4 linked regions of the Homo sapiens genome follow. The protein of the gene in region 3 interacts with the protein of the main gene of each other region in a biochemical or structural test. Each region holds a gene or a part of one and is shown on either strand. Other genes may lie near its edges.

What was found. The genes of interacting proteins can lie anywhere in the genome.
Region 1: of the proteins of PTPRR (region 3) and PDGFRB, one has a biochemical effect on the other in vitro, tested with the Homo sapiens proteins (one large-scale study listed by IntAct).
Region 2: the proteins of PTPRR (region 3) and MAPK7 form a complex in vitro, tested with the Homo sapiens proteins (one study listed by BioGRID).
Region 4: the proteins of PTPRR (region 3) and MAPK14 form a complex in vitro, tested with the Homo sapiens proteins (one study listed by IntAct).

The regions. Positions count from the first base shown.
Region 1 is NC_000005.10:150,145,846-150,149,345, forward strand, and holds part of PDGFRB (platelet-derived growth factor receptor beta isoform 1 precursor), read right to left. Parts: intron 1-3,500. UniProt on the Homo sapiens protein: Tyrosine-protein kinase that acts as a cell-surface receptor for homodimeric PDGFB and PDGFD and for heterodimers formed by PDGFA and PDGFB, and plays an essential role in the regulation of embryonic development, cell proliferation, survival, differentiation, chemotaxis and migration.
Region 2 is NC_000017.11:19,381,498-19,384,044, reverse strand, and holds the end of MAPK7 (mitogen-activated protein kinase 7), read right to left. Parts: coding exon 2,359-2,547; intron 2,265-2,358; coding exon 1,579-2,264; intron 1,233-1,578; coding exon 1,099-1,232; coding exon of another isoform or gene 1,095-1,098; intron 968-1,094; coding exon 814-967; 3' UTR 501-813; downstream 1-500. UniProt on the Homo sapiens protein: Plays a role in various cellular processes such as proliferation, differentiation and cell survival. The upstream activator of MAPK7 is the MAPK kinase MAP2K5.
Region 3 is NC_000012.12:70,641,239-70,644,738, forward strand, and holds part of PTPRR (receptor-type tyrosine-protein phosphatase R isoform 1 precursor), read right to left. Parts: intron 1-3,500. UniProt on the Homo sapiens protein: Sequesters mitogen-activated protein kinases (MAPKs) such as MAPK1, MAPK3 and MAPK14 in the cytoplasm in an inactive form.
Region 4 is NC_000006.12:36,072,808-36,076,307, reverse strand, and holds part of MAPK14 (mitogen-activated protein kinase 14), read right to left. Parts: intron 3,436-3,500; coding exon 3,324-3,435; intron 2,618-3,323; coding exon 2,588-2,617; intron 2,260-2,587; coding exon 2,212-2,259; intron 461-2,211; coding exon 346-460; intron 1-345. UniProt on the Homo sapiens protein: Serine/threonine kinase which acts as an essential component of the MAP kinase signal transduction pathway.

The DNA.
Region 1 (3,500 bases), on a different chromosome or scaffold from region 3:
CAGCCTGGGCAACAAGAGTGAAACTCCGTCTCAAAAAAATAAATTAAAAAATAAAGTCGTCAGCCTTATCTTTTCGCCTTCTTTGTCCCAACTTCTCCTTTCACTCTTTCACGCTGTCTTTTGAGCTGGGTAAAGCTGAAGCTGACAGTTTGAGTGGGAAACAGTCACTCCATTTTTCACAGAGCCCTACAGTCTTAGTACATTCCCTCTATTCACATCTCCCCCACCTTCTCTGCAATTGCACACCTCCCATGACAGGGCTCTCACCACCTCACCTGTGGCCCATTTCATTCTTAGCCAGCTTAGAATCTTCAGAGGGCAGACTATTGAGAATTGTTAATTACACTGAGTACAGTTTATCTCACTGTATTCTCTGCTTATTGGTCTTGCTTCTATCCACCAACCACCCTCTCCCCAAATACAGGACATCTTTCTAGTTATTGTTCTGATCCCCCCCAATCTGGAAACAAACAAAAGTCCCTACTAATTTAGAGCCAGGCACTCTGCTAAATGAGATGATCTGGAGATTTTGTTTCATCCTCACGACCACCCTGTGAGGGGGGTACACTCATTATTCCCATTTTACAGAGGAGAATGATGAGTCTCAGAGACTTTTGGTAACTTTCCCAAGGTCACACAATAAGTAAGATGCAAAGGAACGGGAATGCAAACTCAGGCCGGCCTGACTCCAAAGCCTATATTCTTTCTTTTTTTTAGAGACAGGGTCTCGCTCTGTTGCCCACGCTGGAGTACAGTGGTGTGGTGGCATGATCATAGCTCACAGCTCACTATAGCCTCAAACTCCTGGGCTCAAGTGATCCTCCCGCCTCAGCCTCCTGAGTAGCTGGGACTACAGGTGCGCATCACCACAACTGCCAAAACCTGAATTCTTGCCCGTCATGCCAGACTGTCTGTCTCCTGACCAGAAACAGTTCTGTCCATCTGTCCACAGAGAAACGTTCTCCCTCTAATGGCGTCCATACGGAATCCAGGATCTCAGGGATGAGAAGATCCTCAGGGATCTGGGTCCCGCCTCTGCTCTGACTGAGGGGCAGTGTATGCGGGAGGCCTGCCCCGGGTCACCAATAATTTTAAAGTCGAGCTAGGGATAGAACCCAGGACTAGGGATAGAACTCCACAATTTCGCTGCAGAGGCTGAGGGTGAGCACACAAGGCTGAGGAGAGAGTTTTTGCTTAGGAAAGCCAGGGTCTGGCAGGGGCAGTGCTCCTGCGGGATACAGCATCCAGGCAATCAGCCCAGGTGTGTGGCCGGCTCTGCCACAGGCCTGCTGTGCACAGGGTCCAGGCCTGCCCCTGTGGGGGCCCCAGCACCCCCTTCCACTGTTTGCAGAGGGCCAGGGCCTCTGTAGCTGCAGAGTTCCAGGCCTCCACCATCCTGCTGCTGCCCTCCCCATCCCCACCCCCCAGAGCCTCATCTCCGGCCGGTGCCATGGCAACAGGGAGTGCCAGGCCCTTGGCAGCCAAAGGAGCCCCTGAGAGGGGTCCCAGGCTGAGACTGAGGAGGGGGGTGCGGCAGGCGCAGACAAGCAAACCTTCTGTTCCCCGGGCTGCTGCCAGCCCGGAGCAGCCATGGGCTGGGGTGGGGGCCGCAAATAGAATGGGTTCTCAGAGCCAAGTGGGCAGGGGACAGGCAGGCCTTGGGCCATTCACACTGACCCACCAGCACACAGCCTTCCCCCACAGGCCCAGGGCCTGCAAATAGGGGAGGGGTAGCTAGCTAATGAGTAAACCCTTCACTTATCAGTGCCAATTACCAAACATTGAGATTCCCCTCAGAGCCCTCCTGGGCGGCAGAGCAGGAGGGCAGAGAACCCCCATGTTTCACTGACCCTCTCACTGTCTCAGCATCTGTCCTCCCACCCCTGTCTTCGGTCATTCACTTAACCACCCCTCTGTGCCTCAGTTTTCTCATCTGTAGATTGGGGCTCATCACTGGGTTGTCAGGGCTATTGAAGGAGTTAACACAAGCAAAATGCTTAGAATAGGGCCTGGCACACAGCCCTCTGCAAAGTTGGTGGCCACATTATTATTATTCATTCACTCAAGGGAGAAGAAGTCACTCACTCACTCGGCCTTGCGCGCACAGCCAAGACTCCACGGGACTAGGCTTCTCAGCAAAGTGATGCATGTGATAAATGAGACGGTGCAAGAAGGCCTCTCCCAAAAGACGCTCCTCAGGAAGAGGTAGCTGCTGATTATTGGTACAATCAGTAGCAACAGCCCTTTTCAGTGTCCTGAGGCTCAGTGAGGAGTGTCTCATCCTAGCACACTCGGCGATTCGGTGGCCAACCTAAGGCCAGACCCATCTAATCACCACTGTCTGTCAATTACTTCTTTCCTGAACTTTTGTCTTAGTCCTTTAATATGACTTCCCACAAATCAGGATACCTACCTAACAACGATCTGGACTCTCTTCAACTTCCTAATATGGAATTAGGCCTACAGTAGGTGCTCAGTAAACGCTTACACGATATGAGAGATTAAATGGCTCTGTAGGGTCAGCTCTTCAGTCCTGGGCCCTCGGCTGCCTCCTAATAACACAGGATTCACTAGGCTAGGGAACTGGCATGGATAGGCAATGGTGACTCTTTCCTTCCAGGGAGGTGATGGAGATGAGCTGGTGAGGGCAGAACAGACATATGGCACTCTGAAGCCAACAGGCTGCGCCTGATGCCATCCAGGGCAGGGATGGGAGCCCCGCCAGGCTGGGAGCAGTGGTTCCAGCTGGAAGCCACTTATTCCTGGGTCCAAGCCCCAGTTCTCTGAGTTTAACTTATCTGAGTCCCAATTTCCTGGGAAATGGCATGGGAGACCTCCTTTTCCATTTCTGGGAGGGCCAGAGATGATGACGCACAGCACTTGGCACATCATAGGTGCCCAGTAAATGGTGACTAACAACAGTATATGATTACTCCAGTGGGGAGAGCGGGTATGGCTTCCTGAGGGAGGTGGCCTTGAGCTAGGCCTCCAGGGTTTCTTGAGTTTTTTGGCAGATGATGCCAGGGAAAGGTATGGCCAGGGCTCTGTGAGAGATGAAAGGCATCTGGGAGAAATGGCAGGGAGAGATCTGTTGGGCTAGAAACTGGGGCTCTTCAGCAAACAGGTAGGTGATGGCCTGGGAAGGAGGCAGCAGGAGGCCAGGGAAGGAGGCAGGGAGACTTCAGGAAAGGTCTGCGGTGCTGTGTGAGGATTTTCTCTGGACCACCAACTTTTCAAGGTGTTGATAGTGATGGCGGGTAGTAGCTGCTGGCTTGGCAGGGCAATGCTGTAACTCCAGGCACTGTGGGGAGGGGGCCTCCATGCAGGAGGATGACACCAGCAGGCTGGCATTTAGTGGGAGGCTGTGGATTAGGATGGGGACAGTGGAGGCTGCAAGGCCAGTGTTGGGGATGAAGCCGTCCCAAACTCAGCCTGAACTCCCTGGCAGGACAAGCTACATAATTTGTGGGGCAAGCACAAAATGGAAATGCAGGGCTCTT
Region 2 (2,547 bases), on a different chromosome or scaffold from region 3:
GCAGTGCAGTGTGAACAGGGCCCATGGTGTATTCTAGGCCACAGCCCAGCACTCCTCTGGGCTGCTCTCAAACCATGTCCCATCTTCAGCATCCCTCCCACCAACTTACTCCCCTGTGGTGAGTACCGTGGAACCCCAGCCCACCTCACTATCATACTCAGCTTCCCCTGATGGCCCATCCCAGCCCCTGAAGCTCTATGCCAAGAACACAGCTACCGCACACCACCCTGAAACAGCCACAGCCAAGGTAGGCATGCATATGAGGTCTTCCCCATACCCTCTGGGTGTTGAGAGGTTTAGCCACATGAGGGAGCAGAGGACAATCTCTGCAGGGCTGGGAGTGGGTAGGGACTGAAGGTCTCAATAAACCTTCAGAACCTGAATGAACTGGCTTCATACACACAAACATATTTGTTTATCCCCCAAATGTAGGCACCTGGCTCCTCCTTGCTCCCCTGCTGATGGTGTCCTACCCCGAACTCCAAAAATTACACCTGGAGTCAGGTGCAGAAGGGAACCTTGTATTTCACAGGCCTCATTTTGATGGCAAAAAGACAGTGTAATAATAACATAATAATAATAAAAATATAATACTGAAAAGGATTGTTCAGGGGGAGTTGGGGTCTCCCGATCCTGCCATGGCTCGGTGGTGGCTCAGGTGGCTGCTTAAGGCTGAAAGGTGGGTCTGAGATGAACCTGCAGAATAATCCAAGCCGAGCCTCACCTGCTGGGTCCAGGGCTAAAGCCTTTGAGAATGCTCCCATGGATCCTGGAACTAGGTCTACTGTGGCAGCAAGGCACAGGCTGGGGGCCTCAGGGGTCCTGGAGGTCAGGCAGGTCAGCCAGCAGCATTGGGGAGTCCATCTGGATCTCACGCTGCAGGGACTCAATATCGGCAGGGTTCATGCCATGGCCTTCGAGCCAGTCAGCAAGCAGGGAGGCTGAGAGAGAGGCTGAATCTGCCTGGCTGCAGGGGAAGGAAAGGGAGGGGTGCTATTAGCCTAGGCTGGACCCTCACCCATCCCACAGGTGCATGTCTCCTGCACCAGGAACCTCTCCCCACAGTCCCAGTCTAGGAGCTCAGTCCAGCCACCTTACCCATCCTGTGGCCCATCAGCCACGCCCATGTCGAAAGACTGGTTTAAGAATTCCTCCAGGTCAAAGCCAACACCGTAGCCAGCCCCACTGCCCTTTGGTGTGCCTGAGAACACAGGGGGCAGGGGGTCCTCCACCTGCAGGGAATGACAGGTTACAATGCAGACAGACTGAGGTCTGTAGGCCACCCTGTCCCAATGCTGCTGACTACTCCGCCTGGATATCTGGGAGTGCTAACACCAGTCTCGGCAGTCAGTGAGTGCTGGCTGGCCCCATCTCTGGGCTAGGCACTTTGCAGGCCATATTTAACTTGTCTCCTAACAACCTCTTCATTGCCATTATGCTCCTTCTGTGAGCAAGAGGACACGTTCAGAGATAAAGCCCCATCTGCTGCTCAGTTTTTGTGGAACACTGACCGCTTCCTGAACCCATTTTCCTTTGGCCCAGACCCAGGTGTCCCCATGGCCTGGGCCTCCCTCTCACCTGTGACTTAGATAGCTGCTGGGTCACAAGGTTGACATCAGGTGACTCTGACATGGAAGACTGAGGGGCTCCCCCGGCGTCTGGGGGCGGCAGGCCAGGTGGGAAGTAAGGCAAAACTCCTGGGGTGCTGGAGCCAGGCAGCCCAGGGGGTGGCACAAGTGACTGGGCAGCCAGGAGGCTGGTGGAGGTGGCAATCTGGGGTGGCGCGGGGACAGGGATGGGCCCAGGAGGGCCAGTGGGGTGGGGTGCAGGGCCAGGGGGTGGGCAGGCAGGCTGGGGTACAGGGCCAGAGGTAGAGCCCGCAGATTGTGGTTGCGGGCCAGTGGGCTGGGCTACAGGGCCAGGAGGAGGACTGGTAGGTTGGACTGGGGTTGGGGTTGGCGTTGGCGCTGGGGCAGGGGCCGGCACAGAGGTGAGGGCTGGGGCTGCGGGCCGGGCCATTCGAGTCCAGCGTTCCAACAGGCTTCTGTCATTGTCACTGAGCACTAGTCCAGCCAAGGGGTCAGTGGAGGGGCCCCCAGAGGCCCCAGCCCCCCGTTCCTTTCGCTCCCGCTCCTGCCGCCGTTTCTCCCGCTCCTTGGCTCGTTCTTGCCGCCTCCGCCGCTTCTCCTCCCGCTCCCGCTGGCGCTCCTGGGCTGTCACCGGCTTCCGAGGCTCAGGAGCCTCCAGGGGTGCGCTGGGGCCATCTGCGGGGAAGTTGGGCAGGGGAGAAGGTAAAAGCCTGAAGCCTTGTCCAAGTCCAAGTCTCCCCTCTGCCCACCCGACCTGCCCACAAGGCACCTCTGAGCCGGCTCCTCAAAGACTTGAGCAGGGCAGCTTTAAGGGCAGCCTTAGTATTGTCTGAGATGGCACCATCTTTCTTTGGTGGGGCAGGCTCACTGACTGGTGGAGGTGGCTGCAGGGTCAGATCAATGGTGTCAGGTGCAGGGCCGGGGCATGGTGGCGGGGCTGGTGGTGGAGACTCCATGG
Region 3 (3,500 bases):
CCATTACTCCCTCTTGAGCTGCAGACAGTATGTGGAAGCTTCTATGTGCTCCACCTCTTAGGCTCTGGTCTGTCAGCTTCCTCTCACCATTTACCTCACTTTGAGGCAAGATTTTCCCCTTCTTGTATGTTCTGGTCAGCACTGGTATTTACATGTCCAACTGGTGAATGAATGGAGACACAGTTTAGAATTTAATAACTGTTTCACCCTAAGTGGGTCAGTGGTGTAATTTAATGGTTGGAGTATATTTACTATGACATTCTGTTCACTAAATCAAGGTTGTTTTAGCCAGTGAAAGTGGGGAAGATGGAGAAGCATACTCATTAATTGTGGGCTGGCAAAATTCTTGCAGGTCTGAAGGCTTCAGGAAAGTATATGAAAAGTTCTCTTACCTCCCACTTAATTTGGAAAATAAAAATGAAAAAAACTGGCATCAGAGGAATTCTTAGAGATCATCCATTCTAGTCACTGACAATATAGCTTTTTTAGAAATCTTGCAATTTTAGAGGCAGCCTTTTCCAAGGTTGGCAGGAAAACTTTTAAGACATCAACATGAATCTGTCCTTTCTAACTTTCACCGCATTGGTCCAACTGAAATAACCCAAAAGACGTCTTAAGGCTCCCCTGTAGTCACACAACAGCTCTCCAAAGGCTGGAAAACAGCCATCAAAGTCCTATAATCTTTTCTTCTTTAGACTAAACATCCTGTGGTCACTCAATATTTCTGTACAGCCTGGTTTTTCTGTCACTCACCACTCTAGTCTCCCTCTTCTACAGGCTATTTTATCAAATATGACCTTCTTAGAGAGTTGTGTCTCCTTCTGATGAGATCTATGAAGCAGGCTTATTTTCTCTTCCAGCTGCACGTTAGAGACCAATAGATCTGTGTTTGCAGGTGCATCAGGTGGTGAGGTCCCCCAGTGCCTACATGGTGCCTGGTTCTCGGTAGTATTTTAAGATACTAACTGACGGTGTAGATTAAATAAAAAGTCAACAAGACTTTTTTTGAATGTGGACATTATAGCTTTCTCCCATCCTGTAATTATGCTACTGGATTTTTGAAACTAAATGCAAGGCTTTCTATTTATTCTTGTTAATTTCAACTTGTTAGTTTCAGCACAATGCTCTTGTTTACTGGATCACTATCTATCGTCAATATATTAGTCTTCCATTTCTCACTCCCAGCGTTGTGTCTCCCAGGTATTTAACAAGGATCCCTTACATCTTTTTATCTAAGGCATTATTAAAAAATAGAAAAAGAGACAAAGTAGGGTCTTTAATATGAGTAAGTTGATATCATGATATATACTATCTAATCCCATTCTATAATTATTTCCAACTAGGTTGTAGGTCCTTTAAAGACCTACAAGCATAATGGCATGGTCTTCTTCTACTTGTAACAATAAAAAGCACTTACGAGTCCTAGGTAAATACTTGTCAAATGAATTACCCAGGTCATGCTATTTTCATGTCATGTGAAAACAGATAAACTCTAGGCTAAAAGAAAGCAAAAGGTATTCCAGGATGCATTCACTGGAGGCTGGTTCAAATTCAGGAACTCATCATAATCATCTCTGAAAATATTAAATAAATGTCCTATTGCATATATTGATATATAGAATAGTCTATTGGCTGGATGCAGTGGCTCATGCCTATAACCCCAGCACTTTGGGAGTGCTGGATGGATCACTCGAGCCCAAAGTGGGAGGATCACTTGAGCCCAGGAGCTCGAGACCAGCCTGGGTAACATAGTTAGACCCTGTCTACAATTTAAAAGAAAAATTAGCTGGACATGGTGGTATATGCCTGTGGTCCCAACTACACAGGAGGTTGAGGCCAGAGGATAGCATTTGCTCTATAACAGGTAATCCATTCTTAGAAAGGTCAACAGAGTCTTCTTTCTTCTTATTTTTGATATGGGGTCTTGCTTTGTTGCCCAGGCTGGAGTGTAGTCATGCAATCACAGCTCACTGCAGCCTTGGCCTCCCAGGCTCAGGTGATTCTCCCACCTCAGCCTCCCAAGTAGCTGGGATGACAGGTGCATGCCACCATACTGAGCTAATTTTTTCTGTGTGTGTGTGTTTTTTGTGTTTGTTTTGTTTGTTTTGTTTTTTAAGAGAGAGAGAGGGTTTTGCCATGTTGCCCAAGCTGGTCTTGAACTCCTAGGCTCAGGCAATCCATCCACCTCAGCCTCCCAAAGTGCTGGGATTACAGGCATGAGCCACCATGCCTGGCAAATGCAGTTTTTTAGATAGGCTGGTCATAGCAAAAAAAGAAACACCTAAGAAGCTAGTACAGTGTCTGTATACAAAATATATTTATGGAATAAATGTATAAAGCTTGGTTAACTATGGAACTCTCAAGAGAGCTCTATAGTTATTCATCCTCAGGAGAGCTCTGACTTGACTCCAGGAAGCTCTTAGGTCAGATAGGTTTCATGGATTTGCTAAAATCTGGATCTATATTACTGATATAAAGTTCCCAATACAAAGTGGTTCTGGGAGGTGAGAAACAAGGGTACTCTTTTTCTTACTTTTTTTTTCTTTTTCTTTTTGGGGCAGGGTCTCACTGTGTCATCCTGGCTGGATCGTGGCTCACTGCAGCCTCAACCTCCCAGGTCAACTGATCTCCTTAGCCTCCCAAGTAGCTGGGACTACAGGTGTGCACCAATATGCATGCACCTTAAATTGCAAACAGAAGTGAAACTTACCTCAGGTTCATATCTGATAAATGCTTATGTTAGAACTAAAACATAACCCCAGCCAATCATAAGCATCCAACTCACATATTGTTATGTCAGTAAGGACTTTCCAATACAGTACCTGAAAAAAGGCAATTATGTAATTGCAAACCAACCAAATAAATTGTTTGTTTCTGTACTTTCCCAATAAATACTTGCCTCTGGCGTTTTGTCATTGGAACACTAAACCTCTTTTGGTCTGGTGTTTCCCAATGTATGACTGGCTTCTTACTAAATAAACTCTTTAAAATTTTATTGTGCGTCAGATATTTCTTTTCCAGTACACGTTTGTTTTCCCAGGAGGTATAATACATTAAGTGAAAATACCTACTGCTAAGCAGGAGTTAGTTTACCAAAAAAGAGTAAGGTCAAATAAAAATGTCAAGAGAACCCCAGCTAGCTGAGAGAATGGTGCCAAGTTCATTACCAGGGGGGACCAGAGTATGTTAAGAGGGAAAAAGACAGCATACACTGTTGTCAAGACAAATTCTGTCTCCACCACTTACTAGATATTTTACCCAACTACACAATCTCTGCAGTGCTCAGTTTTTTCATCTGCAAATGATGCGACAATAAAAACAATAGTTCCTACTTTATAGCATTGTTGTGAGAAATAAATGGGACTATCACTTAACATGTTTAGCACATAGCCAAGCACATATCAATACCATAAATGTCAACTATTATTATTGTTATTGTTATTGTTACTCTTTGGTACCATCTGGTCAAATAGGACTGGTTAGGAGGCTCTGGAGTGAGG
Region 4 (3,500 bases), on a different chromosome or scaffold from region 3:
TTTAAAAAGGGGCAAGTTTCTTATTAGTAGAATGGTAGATTCTTCCAAGTAACATTGAGGGGTTAAAATTATGGACTAATTGTCTTTAGGTATAAGTACTCAGAGAATATATTCAAAATCTAAATAAATAAAAACCCAATTGCTAAATCACAAGGTTTAAAAGCTGTGTATAAAACCCCACTTCCCCATCTGAGGAAGTGAAATATTTTTACTTGCAGGCTTTAAAAGGATCACTGAGGGAAGAAAAGACATTTCTTCCCACTCCCACCATCTCTATTTCTGAGAATCCCAAATGCATCCAACATGGAATTAAATAAGGCCCTAAATAACCAAGGCGAGTAATACCTGTCTGGTTGTAATGCATCCAGTTCAGCATGATCTCAGGAGCCCTGTACCACCTAGTGGCCACGTAGCCTGTCATTTCATCATCTGTGTGCCGAGCCAGTCCAAAATCCAGAATCTAAAGGGCAGAAGAGGAACAGACAAACTGCTAAGACTTAGAAACAGGCAGGGAAAAAAAAACAAAACAACAACAACAAACAAACCTCTGTTGCCTTATTAAAAAGGAGAACAAAATAGCACTTTCATAAAGAGATTTCCTGGTCCATACTTAGAATGTATGGTAAATATACAGCAAGAACTTAAAATGAAATTACAAAAAGCAAAACAAAAATGTCACTCCCAGGTATTTAATCAAGTGCAATGAGAACTTACGTCCATACAAAGGTTTGCACATAAACATTCACAGTTGCTTTACACAGCCTCAAACTCAAGCAAATGTCCATCAGCAGGTGGATAGATTTAAAAATTCTGTTATGTTCATAAAACAAAATACTATTACCAATAAAAAGGAAGAAACCACTGACACACACAACAATACCGAATCATTACACCAAGCAAAGGCCAGACACACAAAAATACACACTATATGATTCCATTTACATGAAACTCCAGAAAAGATAAACCTAATCTATAGTGTTAGAAGCAGATCCATAGTTGCCTGGAGCCAGAGTTAGGGGTGGAGGGGTAGGGATTGACTAGGAAGGGACACAATAAACTTTTTTTTTTTTTTTTTTTTTTTTGAGACGGAGTCTTGCTCTGTTGCCCAGGCTGGGGTGCAGTGGCACTATCTCGGCGCACTGCAAGCTCTGCCTCCCAGGTTCACGCCATTCTCCTGCCTCAGCCTCTCAAGTAGCTGGGACTCCAGGTGCCCGCCACCATGCCCAACTAAATTTTTGTATTTTTAGTGGAGATGAGGTTTCACCGTGTTGGCCAAGATGGTCTCTATCTCCTGACCTCATAATCCACCCGCCTTGGCCTCCCAAAGTGCTGGGATTACAGGCATGAGCCACCACGCCTGGCCATAAACTTTTTAAAGTAATCCAAATGTTCTTGGCTGGGAGCAATGGCTCACACCTGCAATCCCAGCACTTTGAGAGGCCGAGGCAGGTGGATCACGAGGTCAGGAGATCGACACCATCCTAGCCAACATGGTGAAATCCCATCTCTACTAAAAATACAAAAATTAGCCGGGTGTGATGGCGTGCACCTGTAGTCCCAGCTACTCGGGAGGCTGAGGCAGGAGAATCGCTTGAACCCGGGAGGCAGAGGTTGCAGTGAGCCAAGATCACACCACTGCACTCTAGACTGGGCAACAGAGTGAGACTGCATCCCAAAAAAAAGGAAAAAAAAAGAAATGGTCTTTATCATAAATGTGAGTTAAGTGGATATATAATTTTGCCAAATGAAATGGTGCATTCTAATGTACAGACATTTTTTCAAGTTAAAAAAATGAAATGGAACAAAAGTTCTAGAGCTGCTTGCTATTTAGAAACAATTAATTCACTTATTTTTTATTTGAATTATTTTGAGTGAGTGGGTTTCTGCCATTTCTCCTCTTAGAAATGTATTTAATCTAGTTATCACCTCTTTGGGCCTACTTACTTGATATTTGACTATTATCCTCCTTTATTATGACTAATATATCAAATTTATAATTTAACTTTATGTTAAAATAAAAACAAGTGATGCCACTTTCAATGTCACTTAGCTTACTCAGAAATGGTTTAAATTTCAAAGTCTGATAATAAAAATAATACGAATTTCAGATAGTCATGGCTCACAAAGCTACTCCCTAAGAAAGTCTGCCTGCTTAGTCAAACATATAATCTCAAAGTAAAGCAAACAATGAATACTGTCTCTTCATTTTACCTTCAGCTCACAGTCTTCATTCACAGCTAGATTACTAGGTTTTAGGTCCTAGGAAGCAAATACAGGGAAGACAGGATCAACTTTATGATGCATGATCAATTCTCCCCCTACAGGTAATAATGAGGATCCAGACATAAAAGACTTCATCCAGCTATCAAAAGACAATCTCCATCCTACAGTCAATATCCAGTCCAAGTTAGCCTTACATAGAAAAAAACTACACATCTTCTTTCTTTAATCAGCTTAAACCTACAGTAAAGTTGCAATCAATCAACATTTCAATGGCTAAAGTTTAGATTAGGATCTTGGCTAAATGCCATTCTTCCACTCTCACCCCACTTCCCCAAAATAATGTAATCAAAGTCACAATACATACCCTGTGAATTATGTCAGCTGAATGTATATACTGCAAAAGAGAAAAAAGTCAAAGTTACCTCCAACCTTCTATTGTCATATTATATAACATATTTGCTGCACATTTTCATGAATCAGTAAGAACTGCTAGTGTTAATAGTAAGATTAGAAATCAGCATAAGTAACTATCAGTATTGTGTACATTTACCATTACTATAATTTCCACAGCCATTGACTCCACTCAGTTGAGCTTTTAATCTATTTTCTGGTTGGCACTCTGGAGCTCAATAAGGACTCAAAGCAGCTAAATATCAAAGATGGGTTTAATTTTAAAACACTGTTTATCTGCCCCTCCAACAAATAAATTAGTCTTTCTTGAGGATTTTTTGAAAATCTCAACATTACGCTGACCAGATATTAGATTACATCAATAAATTATTGTTTAGATGTAAGAATGAAGAGTCCTTATCTTTCAGATATGCAAACTGAAGTATCTATGGATGGTATTATATAATGTCTAGACTTGCTTTAAAATAATCCAGGGCTTGGGAAATACAAAAGAAACATGATTGGCCATATGTCGGTAACTGTTGTCACTGAGTGAACATGGCAGTTTACTGTACTATATGACCTTTACCTGTGATTTTATGTGTTTGAATTTTCCATTAGAAAAGTTGTTTACTTGTTTGTTTAAGCCCTAAAAGGAGGGGAGAAAGGGAGAATTCATTTTAAAAAATTATTACTTGTATTATCTGTACCTTTAGACCTCGGAGAATTTGGTAGATAAGGAACTGAACATGGTCATCTGTAAGCTTCTGACATTTCACAATGTTGTTCAGATCTGCCCCCATGAGATGGGTCACCAGATACCTAGAAATTAGTGAAAAGTTACATAACAATCTAGAACCCCTAAGAAAGTTCTTATCTTCAGAAGA